3 separate regions of the Homo sapiens genome follow, and regions 2 and 3 are each linked to region 1. The links come from fine-mapping of genetic effects on gene expression. A gene starts in region 1. Each other region holds a variant in brackets. All regions are shown on one strand. Distances are between the middles of the regions. Region 1 holds the start of TAGLN (transgelin). Region 2 overlaps DSCAML1 (DS cell adhesion molecule like 1). Region 3 overlaps PAFAH1B2 (platelet activating factor acetylhydrolase 1b catalytic subunit 2).

Region 1 (4,146 bases):
TTCCGTCCAGTCTTCAGGCAAGTTCTGTGTTAGTCATGCACACACATACCTATGAAACCTTGGAGTTTACAAAGAATTGCCCCAGCTCTGGGCACCCTGGCCACCCTGGTCCTTGGATCCCCTTCGTCCCACCTGGTCCACCCCAGATGCTGAGGATGGGGGAGCTCAGGCGGGGCCTCTGCTTTGGGGATGGGAATGTGTTTTTCTCCCAAACTTGTTTTTATAGCTCTGCTTGAAGGGCTGGGAGATGAGGTGGGTCTGGATCTTTTCTCAGAGCGTCTCCATGCTATGGTTGCATTTCCGTTTTCTATGAATGAATTTGCATTCAATAAACAACCAGACTCAGTTCTTGGGGCCCTTGTTTGCACTCCCTCTGGGTGGAGCTGTTGAGGATGAGGGGAGAGGCGGAGGTCTTCCATTTCCCCATTCTTCAAGCCATGGCCCTACTGGGAACTGCAATTCCTTGATTCTCCCGTTTTTCCTGTCCCTCCAGCAACAGCATTAATTCAGTAAACATTTACCGGGGCACTGTGCTGGACAGAGGCCAGTTCCTGGAAAAGCCTTTCCCACGCCATCCCACTGCAGACATCCCTCCTTACCTCCCCAGGAACAGCAGTCTCTGCCCACCTGGCCCCGCCCACCAGACTGAGGCTCACTTCACCTCTGACCTGAGCGGCCCCCAGCTCACCAAGCCACAGGCCCAAGCAGTGCTCCCTGATGCGGCGTTTATAATCCGCTCAGCGTGCAGGCCGAGGCAGGAGGGTGATGAAAGCTGGGCAGGCTCCAAGAGGAGGGAGTTTTGATATGTCCCTGAAAGATTCATTTAGACTTCAGTCGGCTAAGGAGGACATGATTTGGGGGCCAAGGAATCTGTTGAATTCAGAACACAACCAGAGGTCTGCAGGGTCAGGGATGGAGGAGTGGGCTTTCCCCTCGCCAGGGCCCACTCCTCTTCCTGCTTTTCCTGCAGGCGCCACTGGGAGGTGCTATGGCTGTGCCTCCCCTGGGCTCTGGAGCATGTCCAGTTGCAGTGGGCAGAACTGCGGAGGCGGGCCCCTCCTCTGCCAGGCCTGGCAGCCCCCTCCTAGGGCCTTGTTTGGCTAGGGGTGGTGCCGGGTGTGGCAGTGTGTGTGTAGTGGAGAGTGTTAGGTCTTCCCTACCAGATGCCCTTGCAGGGGAGTGCCACAGCAGTCAGTCCAGGGATCCCACTGTTAGTCTCACCTTTTTTAACCTCTTATCTCTCCCCAAGATCCCTGAAGCCAGGTACGAGCAAGATGAGAGTGGGTTATCTCTGGAGTGACAGAGGCTGGTCTGTTTTCCAGGCTGGTAGGGACTGTTCCTAAAGGGAGGAAGGGATGATACCAGCCTCCTGAGCCTCCTTCTCCTGCGTTAGTGTCTCAGGCCCTGCCAGGCCTTATAGACCCTCTTATTGACACTGCCCACTGGATGGGGACCGGAGTTGGACTCAGCTTCTGCCGAACCCTCAAATCCCAGCCCCAACTAAAGCATATAACTCAAGACCTACCTGCACTGAAAGCTCTTCTCAACCTGAGCAGGGTGGTCCAATTGAAAGGGTGGGTCTGACCACCTCTCCTGCACCCATGCGGGTTGGCAGAGGTGTGCAGGATCTGCCACTTACCATTCACCATGTGGCCTTGAGGAAGACGCACTCGGGGCCTCAGTTTCCTCATCTATAAAATGGGGATGTAATTACACCCTCACACTGTAGCTGTGAGTATTCAATGAGAGCACTGCAAAGGGCCTGGTGTGGAGTAGGTCCTCAGGAAAGGTTGGATCCCATGTCCCATCAGAGCTAAAAGCCCCAGGAGGAGAGGGTGGCTGGTTTGTCCCCACAAACCCCTGGGATTCCCGGCTCCCCAGCCCCTTGCCCCTCTCTCCAGCCAGACTCTATTGAACTCCCCCTCTTCTCAAACTCGGGGCCAGAGAACAGTGAAGTAGGAGCAGCCGTAAGTCCGGGCAGGGTCCTGTCCATAAAAGGCTTTTCCCGGGCCGGCTCCCCGCCGGCAGCGTGCCCCGCCCCGGCCCGCTCCATCTCCAAAGCATGCAGAGAATGTCTCGGCAGCCCCGGTAGACTGCTCCAACTTGGTGTCTTTCCCCAAATATGGAGCCTGTGTGGAGTCACTGGGGGAGCCGGGGGTGGGGAGCGGAGCCGGCTTCCTCTAGCAGGGAGGGGGCCGAGGAGCGAGCCAGTGGGGGAGGCTGACATCACCACGGCGGCAGCCCTTTAAACCCCTCACCCAGCCAGCGCCCCATCCTGTCTGTCCGAACCCAGACACAAGTCTTCACTCCTTCCTGCGAGCCCTGAGGAAGCCTTGTGAGTGCATTGGCTGGGGCTTGGAGGGAAGTTGGGCTGGAGCTGGACAGGAGCAGTGGGTGCATTTCAGGCAGGCTCTCCTGAGGTCCCAGGCGCCAGCTCCAGCTCCCTGGCTAGGGAAACCCACCCTCTCAGTCAGCATGGGGGCCCAAGCTCCAGGCAGGGTGGGCTGGATCACTAGCGTCCTGGATCTCTCTCAGACTGGGCAGCCCCGGGCTCATTGAAATGCCCCGGATGACTTGGCTAGTGCAGAGGAATTGATGGAAACCACCGGGGTGAGAGGGAGGCTCCCCATCTCAGCCAGCCACATCCACAAGGTGTGTGTAAGGGTGCAGGCGCCGGCCGGTTAGGCCAAGGCTCTACTGTCTGTTGCCCCTCCAGGAGAACTTCCAAGGAGGTGAGGAGTGTGTGAACGCACCTGTGTTGGAGCACGGTGTCCCACTCTGGCGGGTCCCCAGGGCCTGAGCAGCAGCGATAGCCCTGTGACAATGTGAAGGGCCACAGAACTCTTGTATTCCAGTCAGGGGCAAAGAGTGGAGACGGAAGGCCTGTCCTTCTGACAAGCAGCCCCTTCCACTGTCTGACAGTGGGAGGTCACCCCCACTGTAGCAGAGGGGTGGGGGGCGGGTACTGCCAAGGAGGAGCTTTGGAGTGATAGGCGGGGCAGGCCTGGGACCCTTGGTCTTTCCCAAAGGGTGGTTCCCTTTCGAAGTTGCTATTCCAAAGGTAGCAGTGAGGATGGCACACATTTATGTAGCCAGGCCACTCCTGTTTGTCCGTGGAGTGGAGAGGAGCCACCCTCCTGCCCTCTCAGAGGTCCAGGTGTGCTCACTCCTATTTGGGAAGAGAGAAGGGGCACAGCAGCCCTGCAGGGGCCCCTGGCTCTGCTCGTGTTTCTGGGCTTCTGCTGGTAGGGGGTGCCACCTTCCCGTTTGACCCTGGACTTTCTTTCTCCACTGCCCACTTTCACCCACTGGGCAGCTCAGGGGAGGGGTCCTGGCAGGAGCCACAGGGCAGGAGGGTCCATGCCTGTCCATGCTGTCCTGGGAGTGTCTTGAGATGCCCCTGGGGGGGCCGCCCTGTAATCATCCTCCTCTCCCCCTCCCCACTGGCTCGAAGGCAGGACTCGGGAGGCTTCATCAGAGGACTCTAAAGGATTTCTGGGGATTCTCCACTTTTCGACCCTGACCCAGGAGGAGGAAGGGGAAGGATGGTGGTGCTGGGTGGGAGTGGGGATGGTGTGTGCTTCATCCCCCTCTGACCGAAATCCTAATCTTGTCTCTAGATCTGGGGGCTGCAGCGTTGTGTACCTGTCACCCTTAGCCTTGCTGCTTTGACCTGTATTGTCTGTTCTGACCCTCCTGAGACTGGAAGCTGGGGGTAGGGGACACACTCTCCTTCCATCCTGTTCCTCAGGAGCCCAGCAGGGGTGCAGAAGGGGAAGGCAGACATGAGGGCAGGTGGAGTGGGGGTAGAAGCAGGGCCAGAGACAGAAGGTGGATGCCTGTCTGGGATGGTGGTGCAAAGGCTGAGACAGAGGCTGGGGTGGATGGAAGCCAGGATGCAGGGCTACCAAAATCACCTGGTCCCAGCTGACTTGGGGGTTTGGACCACAGTTCTTTGTGCAGGAGTCCTTGGGTGGTTGGGGAGCGGGGGTGGGACACACAGGGTGAAGGGAGGGATTGGCTGTTTGTAGCTGAACAGCAGAACAGAGCACTCTGCCTTTGGGGTCTCTGGCATCACTGGCAGGGAGAGGGGTGGCTGGGCCAGGAGCCCACCTCATCCCCAGTGCTCAGAGAACTGGGTCCTCA
Region 2 (4,300 bases), 450 kb after region 1:
AAATAAAACGTGATCAAAGAAAAGGAGAAAGGATTCTAGAACGTGGAAGCAGTGGGCCCTATAAGGGGAAGAGCACAGGCTTTGGGGTCAGACTGACCTGTGTGTGTGGCTGTCTCAGCCCTTTCATCATGGGTCACAGAGCAATTCACTTCCTCTGCAAGATGGGAACAGCGGTAATACCTCACCCCTTGGTTGTGCAGAGTTGGAAAGAACACACAGCCAGACACCTGGTGCACACTCTGCCTCCTGGTAGCTGCTCCATAAATGTTTATTCTCCTCTCCAGCACCTAACCCCAGGCTTTAGCAATCCAGGTGGCCCAGAATCCAAGGCGGCGCCTTCTCCAGAGATAGGAGGTAAAATCTCTGCAAAGCCAAATGCTTAGTGCTTCCTGGGAAGGCAAGTGCCTGCCACAGAGAATCAGACCAAAGATGAGGAATGTGACATTCCCACCAGCTCAGGCCTAATGTAGAACAGCAAATAACAACTAAATCTTAAGCATCTACTCTGGCCAGGATTGTTCTGAATGCTTTACTTATCTCTCTCTCCCTCTCGCTCTCTCTCTCTCCATATATATGTGTGTGTGTGTGTGTGTGTGTGTGTGTGTGTGTGTGTGTGTGTGTATTTTTAGACAGAATTTCGCTCTTGTCACCCAGGCTTGAGTGCAATGGCATGATCTCGGCTCACTGCAACCTCCGCCTCCCAGGGTTAAAGCAAGCCTCCTGCCTCAGCCACCCCAGCAGCTAGGATTACAGGCGTGCACCCCCACACCAGGCTAATTTTTGTATTTTTAGTAGAGACGAGGTTTCACCACATTGGCCAGGCTGGTCTCGAACTCCTGACCTCAGGTGATCTGCCCGCCTTGGCCTCCCAAAGTGCTGGCATAAGCCACCATGCCCCGCCAACTTATCACTATTTTTGCAGGCCCAAAGAGAAAGCCTTTCCCTTAAAATTGGTCTCTCCAGCCCTGATAAGTTCCCCGTCTCCACTAGCCATATGCCTGTTCTTGCAGGTGCCAAAGTTCAAAATGTTAATATCTTTGACTCTCCCATCTCCCTGGCAGCTTCCCGTGGTCACCAGGGCTTGGCTCTGCATCTCTCCTCTCCTTCTGGGCCCCACTGTGACCCCACCACTCTTCTTCATTGATCTCCCTGCTCTGGGCTCGTCCCTACCAAACCCCTGTGAACTAATGGCCCACTTTATTGTAAGAGTTATTGTCTTAAAATAGCACGGGTTGAGAAAATTTCCACAATGGCTATTGAATAATGCAGGAATTCCTTGGTCCTAAACCTGTTCTCAACCTACCTTTCTGGACCTATCCGTAGGTTCCCTCTCCCTGAACAGGTCCAGGCAGTTCTCACAGGGAGATTTGTGCTCCTTCCGTGCCTCCGCCCCAGCCTGCCAAGTGCTTCCTCCTTCCTCTGCTCATCGGAACCATGGCCTCCCCAGGAGTTGCCTCTTGATGTGCTGCCTTGACCCTTCCTCATTGGAACCCCTTGCTTGGCTCAACCTGTCCTCCCTTTGGCTGGCAGGGCATTCTGGGGCACTGAGCAGCGGTTGGCACAGGCTAGGCCACTAACTGGGTTTCAGTTTCCTCTTTTTAGGAACCAGGCAAGGGACTAGAGCTGTGGTCCCCAGATACGGCTCCTCACTGGCATTATCTGTGAACTTCCAAAAAACACGGGTTCCCAGGCCCCGCCCTGTGCCTTCTCAGTCTGGATCTCCAGGGTGCGGCCCAGGAATTTGTGTCTGCCCACTCCCCACATGATTCTGAGGTGCTGCCAGGTTTGGCAGGACCTCAGCTAGAGATGCTTCACGTATGGACTGCCTCGTGTCAAAGGCTTTGCAGGCCCTCAGGCTGAAGAGGATAGGGCCCGGGTTTCTTCTGCATGTTGCCAGGATCCAGTTATGGGATTCAGAAGATACTCCACAGATGTTAGTTGAAGAAATGAATGAATGAATGAATGAATGCCCTGAAGAGATGCAGCTGCGGTTCTCTGAGAAACTGTCCTCTCCAGCTCTTTTCCAGGACAATTAGGTAGAAAGTCAGAAGAGATCACACGCAGCCTCGTGCAAAGAGGCTGTCAGAGCCTCTGCCAGTCTGAACACACACTTGGTGGAAGGTCACAGTACCGAGCTGGTGATCTGAGGCTGCCCTTGGAGTCCATCTGAGTCATTCTGTTTAAAGTGTGTGTGTCTATCTGTGTGTGTGTGTGTGTGTGTGTGTGTGTGTGTGCGTGTGTGTGTGTGGTGGGGATTGGGGTTCCCAGTGGGTGGCTTGCTAGGATGATTCAGATGGTCAGGGGTGGTTGAGGGCTGCTCAGGACTCGGCAGCTAATTGCCCAGCTTTCCACTGTGGTGAGATCTGGTGCTGAGCCCAAAGGGAACCCTGTGGTGCCTGGGCCTGAGTTGGTTCAGAATC[A/G]CCCAAACAGGCCCCAGGCCTCTGCCAGTTGATCAACCTGGGAGAGTACAGGTAGTAAGAGTTTCCAGGGCAACCTCCAGGGAGAGGACAGGGATGTCTCCTGTGTGCCTAATTTGTCTTCCGTGCCTTTGTAGCCTGGAAAGCAACCCTGGGTGGGACCTTGGAGGTCATGCCTGTGACCATGGGGGACATGGACATGGCCTGATTTGTGGGCACAGACTAAGGCCCACATTTTGACCGAAGCCTCAATCCAGGGCGCTTTGCTCTTACAGCCTGAAACAGCTGCTGCCTCTGTCCATGGCTACTGGACCAGGGTCTGCAGCTCCAGCCTCAGCTCAGGGATGGGACAAGAAACAGAAACAGATGATAAGGCCACAGAAATGCCACCCTGGCAGGGGCTGCAGTGGCAGCACTTTGTCCAGTGGCCCCAGCCCAAGGACTCCAACAGGCTGTGCTCCACAGTGCACTGATGGGCTCTGCTCAGCTCCTGAGCCCTGGCTACATCTCCAGCAAATATAAGAATGATTGCACCCCTAGGCCGGGTGCGGTGGCTCACGCCTGTAATCCCAGCACTTTGGGAGGCCGAGGCGGGCAGATCACGAGGTCAGGAGATCGAGACCATCCTGGCTAACACGGTGAAATCCTGTCTCTACTAAAAATACAAAAAAAAAAAAATTAGCCGGCCGTGGTGGCGGGCACCTGTAGTCCCAGCTACTCGGGAGGCTGAGGCAGGAGGATGGCGTGAACCCAGGAGGTGGAGCTTGCAGTGAGCCGAGATCTTGCCAGCGTACTCCAGCCTGGGCGACAGAGCAAGACTCTGTCTCAAAAAAAAAAAAAAAAAAAAAAAAAAAGAATGATTGCATCCCTAAAAATTTGTTGTCCTTCAGAGTTTCAAAGTACTTTCTTGACATTATCTGGTTTTATAGTCACTGCAGCCCTTCAAGACAGATGTCATCCCCGATGTCTCCCCGAGCCTCTGCAGAAATAGGTTCAGGGAAACAGCGGGGATGACAATGCCTACTCTGCAAGTGGTCATCTGTCAACTATTCTCTCTGATTACGGGTATTGGTCCAGCCTCCTAGGGCAGCCCAGGCTCACCTCTGGCTTCTGAGCCACTGTTTCCTCTAAGCCAGCAAGGCCTGGTGCTCTTGGCCTTGCCTCCTCCTTGCACCATCTTCCTTCTCAGGGTTCGGAGATCGCAAGGCTGACAGCAAACCCTTGGGCCACACTGGACTTATCGAGATCCAGCTGTCCTGGATGCCTTCTAGTAGGGGAAGCCCCAACTTCAAAATTGCTTCTCAGACTCCCAATATCTTTTCTTTTCTGGAGACAAGGCGTTGGTAGAATTAGTCTCCAGCGTGTTGCCTGCTCTAGTCCCCAGCTCTTAGTCTCCATGACGAGAGAGGTCACCTGGGCTACGCATGTGATGCTGCCATGCATATTATCCCCATGGGAAAGAACCAGGAGATGGAGCAGATGACACTGCCCAGACCTCCAAGACTAGAGGGCGGCGTAGCCCCTGTCCCACCACGCCATGCCCTTGAATTGGGGAAGTCACTTACCGTTCCCAGTCACCTCCCCATCTGGGACTGCAGAGATGGATGCAAGACCTGCTCCACCTCCAATACACCACCATTTAAAAGGTGACATACTCACACCTGAGGCAGCCACAGCTCTAGTCTTACCCAGGCTGGGAAGAAGAGGTAGAGGAGAGATGGTGATCCATGGAAATCTAAACCCTAGAGACACTTAGCTTCAAAATGCCTCAAGATTCTTGCCTGGGCCCCCGAAGCAACTGGATGAGCAGAAGGAATGCTGGGACTGGTCATAAAGTGCCCAGTCACGATGATAACCGTGCGTGCATTGGTAAGGGCTGTGGG
Region 3 (4,000 bases), 39 kb before region 1:
TGTATAAATTTGTTTAAGGGATGAATATAAAAGTTTAAACTGGTCTGGCACGGTAGTTCACGCCTGTAATCCCAGCACTTTTGGAGGCTGAGGCGGGTGGATCACCTGAGGTCAGGAGTTCGAGACCAGCCTGACCAACATGGTGAAACCCCATCTCTACTAAAAATACAAAAATTAGCTGGGCATGGTGGTGGGCGCCTGTAATCCCAGCTACTCGGGAGGCTGAGGCACAAAAATTGGTTGAACCCGGGAGGTGGAGGTTGCAGTGAGCTAAGATCGCGCCACTACACTCCAGCCTGAGTGATAAAGTGAGATTCCATCTCCAAAAAGTAAAATAAAAAGTTTAAACTATGTTCTTTAGCATTGATGGGTAAAATTTGTTTTCTTTTTTCTTTCTTTCTTTTCTTCATAGTGAAGGGGTCTCATGATGTTGCCCAGGCTGGTCTCGAATGCCTGGGCTCAAGCTATCCTTCACACCTTGGCCTCCTAAAGTGCTAAGATTATGGACATGAGCCACCACACCTGGCCAAAATCTATTTTAGAGAGTGTCTTGTGCCTTTATAACAGAAAGAGGCACTCTGGGCGGAGATTACCACTGTTTATAAACTTGGATTTGACTGAAAAGGATTGAGTCCTAGTTTGCCGGTGTCTCACATTTGGAAGTTAACAGATATTTTCAAAGTCTGCATTCAAATAAAATACATGGATCCTCATTGGATCATAGTTGAGAAAATGATATAATACTTTATTGAACTCTTGGAGCCATTTGAAAAATTGAATGTTATGGGATTGTTTCTTTTCCTAGTTATGATAATAGTTTGTGGGCTTTTTTTTTTTTTTTTTTTTTAAGATGGAGTTTCGCTCTTGTCGCCTAGGCTGGAGTGTAATGGCATGATCCCGGCTCACTGCAACCTCCGTCTCCCAGGTTCAGGCGATTCTCCTCCCTTAGCCTCCTGAGTAGCTGGGACTACAGGCACCCGCCACCACACCTGGCTAATTTTTGTATTATTATTAGAGGCGGGGTTTCACCATGTTGGCTGGGCTGGTCTCGAACTCCCAACCTCAGGTGATCTGCCCACCCTGGCCTCCCAAAGTGCTGGGATTACCGGCGTGAGCCACCGCACCATTTGGTTTTATAAGAGGATGTTCTTACTCTTAGGAGATGCTTGCTGATTAGGGTGAAGAATCATAATGTTTGCATTCTACTTCACAAGTGGTCCAGCAAACATGCACACATACATAGAAACAAAGCAAACATGGGAAAATACTATTAGTTGTTGAATACAAGAGGCAGATGTATATGTGTTCATTGTAATATGTCAACTTTCTGTGTATCTACAATTTTCTTAATAAAAGTTTGAGGAAAAGATAAACTTCTAAACAGCATGTTACATGTATTTTTCTATTCTGGTTTCAGTAGAATTCTGGGTTTCTTGAGAGTACTAGAATGCTCTGTATGGTAAGGGTGAGAAGAAAGTTCAAACAGTAATTTATAGAATGAGAGGAATAAGCTTTGGGGATAGACTAAAAAAAATGTTCAACAACAGTAACTGGTTGAACAGCTGTTCTTTCTAGGCCAAGAAGTCTCACAGGGAAAGAAATATCAGTTTCTTTTTTTATTAAAAAAATTTTTTTTTGGCTAGATGTGTGGCTCACACCTGTAATCCCAGCACTTTGGAAGGCTAAGGTGGGCAGATTGCTTGAGCTCAGGAGTTCAAGACCAGCCTGGGCAACATGGTAAAACCTCGTCTCTACAAAAAAATAGAAAAAATTAGCCAGGCATGGTGGCATGAGCCTATAATCCCAGCTATTCAGGTGACTGAGGTGGGAAGATGACTTGAGCCCCTGAAGCAGAAGTTGCAGTGAGCCAAGATCACGCCACTGTACTCCAGCCTGGGTGAGAGAGCCAGACGCTGTCTTAGAAAAAAAAAAAAAAAGAAAGAAAAAAGTTGTTTTTGTAGAGATGGGATCTTGATATATTACCCAGGCTGATCTCAAACTCCTGACCTCAAGTTATTCTCCTGTCCTGGCCTCCCAAAATGTTGAGAGTTCAAGCATGGGCCACCACACCCAGCCAGAAGTGCCAGTTAATAATTTTTTTT[T/C]TTCTTCTTCAAACCAGCACAACAGATTTGTTTTGGACTGTAAAGACAAAGAGCCTGATGTACTGTTCGTGGGAGACTCCATGGTGCAGTTAATGCAGCAATATGAGGTAAAGGTGGAAGGGATGAGCGTGGTTCTTGGCTACTCATGTATATCCATTCATTACTAACAGACTTTCATTCTGAGCTGAACTTACTTATTTGTGACTCTTAGAGAAGCCCTAATTGAGGTTATAAGAGAATCAAAGCTACCTAAAGGGATTTTCTTTTCTTTCTTTTAACTTGGCCATGTTCTGATCTGAAGCATTGTTTATAATGAAACTTCCTCTTCTACTCTGGTTTCCAAGAGGCTTGATGTTATATTTGTTTATATTTGCTCTACTCAGATTGTCAAGTTATTATTTGTATCTTAGTATTTCCTATTTGTATTTGCTAATAACATTTATCCTAGTCATGATTCTTACTTATATTTTGCCATTTTCCTATTTCATATATTTTTGTAGTAAGCTATTGCCAATCTTCTTTTAGGGTTTAGGCATTCTTCCATGGGAAATTTATTAGTTTTTTTATTTTTTAATTTATTTTTTTGAGACAGTCCCGCTCCATCGTCGAGGCTGGAGTGCAGTGGCACAATCTCAGGCTCAAGAGATTCTCATACCTCAGCCCCTGAGTAGTTGGGATTATAGGCATGTGCCACCATGCCTGACTGATTTTTGTATTTTTAGTGGAGACGGGGTTTCACTATGTTGGCCAGGCTGGTCTCGAACTCTTGGCCTCAAATGATCCACGTGCCTTGGCCTCACAGAGTGCTGGGATTATAGGCATGGGCCACTGTGCCCAGCCCCAAGGGAAATTTAAAAGATAGCTTTTTTTTTTTTTTTTAAGCTCTAGCACTCTAAATTTCTTCATCTCTTGTTTCTACTTCACCCTGTTTCTGTAGTTCAATAAGTGGAAAGGAGGGTTTGTTGAGTTGACAGCTTAATTATTAATGTTGATACCTTTTAGGGGGCATCAGATTGAGTTGTGACTCATTTCTTGAGCTGAGACCTAAGGCTGCATTAAGAACTGAGTTACACAATGGTATCTTAAAAGCCCTTAAACAGTGTCACACCATTACAGTGTTATCTTTGAATACAGAAAAAGGAAATTAATGCCTTGCAACACATTGCAGTCGAAAGATTAAACTTTCCCCTAGTTTTAGGTACACTAAATCAAGTTTTTCTTTTTTTAGATATGGCGAGAGCTTTTTTCCCCACTTCATGCACTGAATTTTGGAATTGGGGGAGATACAACAAGACATGTTTTGTGGAGACTAAAGAATGGAGAACTGGAGAATATTAAGCCTAAGGTGAAATGAAAGTTACTTGTCAATGTCATTAATCTTAAGTCTGTTTTGGATAGTTAAATTGTCTGAAACTGTAAAAAAAAATTGCTTCTTTAAAGACCTATTTCACTATTTTTTTCGTGCCTCTTTAAGGTAAATGATACTGTCATTGCTTGAGAATATGCCAAAATATATAATTAAGAAACTAGTGAATTGTTTGCCTATTGGGTTGTATTTATAGTTGTTATAATTACTTTCTTAAGTTGAAGGAAGAGTTTTTTTTTTTTTTGAGATGGAGTCTTGCTTTGTCACCCAGGCTAGAGTGCAGTGGTGTGATCTCAGCTCACTGCAACCTCCGCCTCCTGGGTTCAAGCGATTCTCCTGCCTCAGCCTCCCGAGTAGCTGGGATTACAGGCGCCGCCACTGTGCCCAGCTAATTTTTGTATTTTTGGTAGAGATGGGGTTTCACCATCTTGGCCAGGCTGGTCTTGAACTCATGACCTTGTGATCCACCCGCTTCGGCCTCCCAAAAGTGCTGGAGAATTACAAGCATGAGCCACCGCGCCTGGCTGAAGGA

Evidence for each region. PIP is the estimated chance that this variant, and not a neighbour inherited with it, causes the effect. A credible set is the group of variants that fine-mapping cannot tell apart.
Region 2: its variant is the best candidate, but not a certain one, in a credible set for the expression of TAGLN in activated CD8 T cells (Schmiedel 2018, PIP 0.78).
Region 3: its variant is the best candidate, but not a certain one, in a credible set for the expression of TAGLN in whole blood (INTERVAL, PIP 0.66).

Annotation. Positions count from the first base shown.
Region 1 is chr11:117,197,098-117,201,243 of GRCh38, forward strand. TAGLN (transgelin) reads left to right here and starts at 2,273. Exons shown (of 5, transcript NM_003186.5): 1 at 2,273-2,335. It overlaps SIDT2 (SID1 transmembrane family member 2), which reads left to right. Exons shown (of 26, transcript NM_001040455.2): 26 at 1-345. It overlaps LOC100652768 (a long non-coding RNA gene), which reads right to left. Exons shown (of 8, transcript NR_045215.1): 2 at 2,754-2,815; 3 at 1,640-1,691; 4 at 1,222-1,339; 5 at 689-810; 6 at 133-307; 7 at 1-49. RefSeq lists an enhancer at 830-1,493 and a silencer at 896-1,190.
Region 2 is chr11:117,648,468-117,652,767 of GRCh38, forward strand. All of the region lies in intron 3 of DSCAML1 (DS cell adhesion molecule like 1), which reads right to left. Among named protein-coding and RNA genes, the nearest start is that of DSCAML1, 150 kb to the right of the region's middle. The variant A/G (reference allele first, on the strand shown) is at 2,421.
Region 3 is chr11:117,157,815-117,161,814 of GRCh38, forward strand. It overlaps PAFAH1B2 (platelet activating factor acetylhydrolase 1b catalytic subunit 2), which reads left to right. Exons shown (of 6, transcript NM_002572.4): 3 at 2,120-2,209; 4 at 3,331-3,447. Among named protein-coding and RNA genes, the nearest start is that of PAFAH1B2, 16 kb to the left of the region's middle. The variant T/C (reference allele first, on the strand shown) is at 2,103.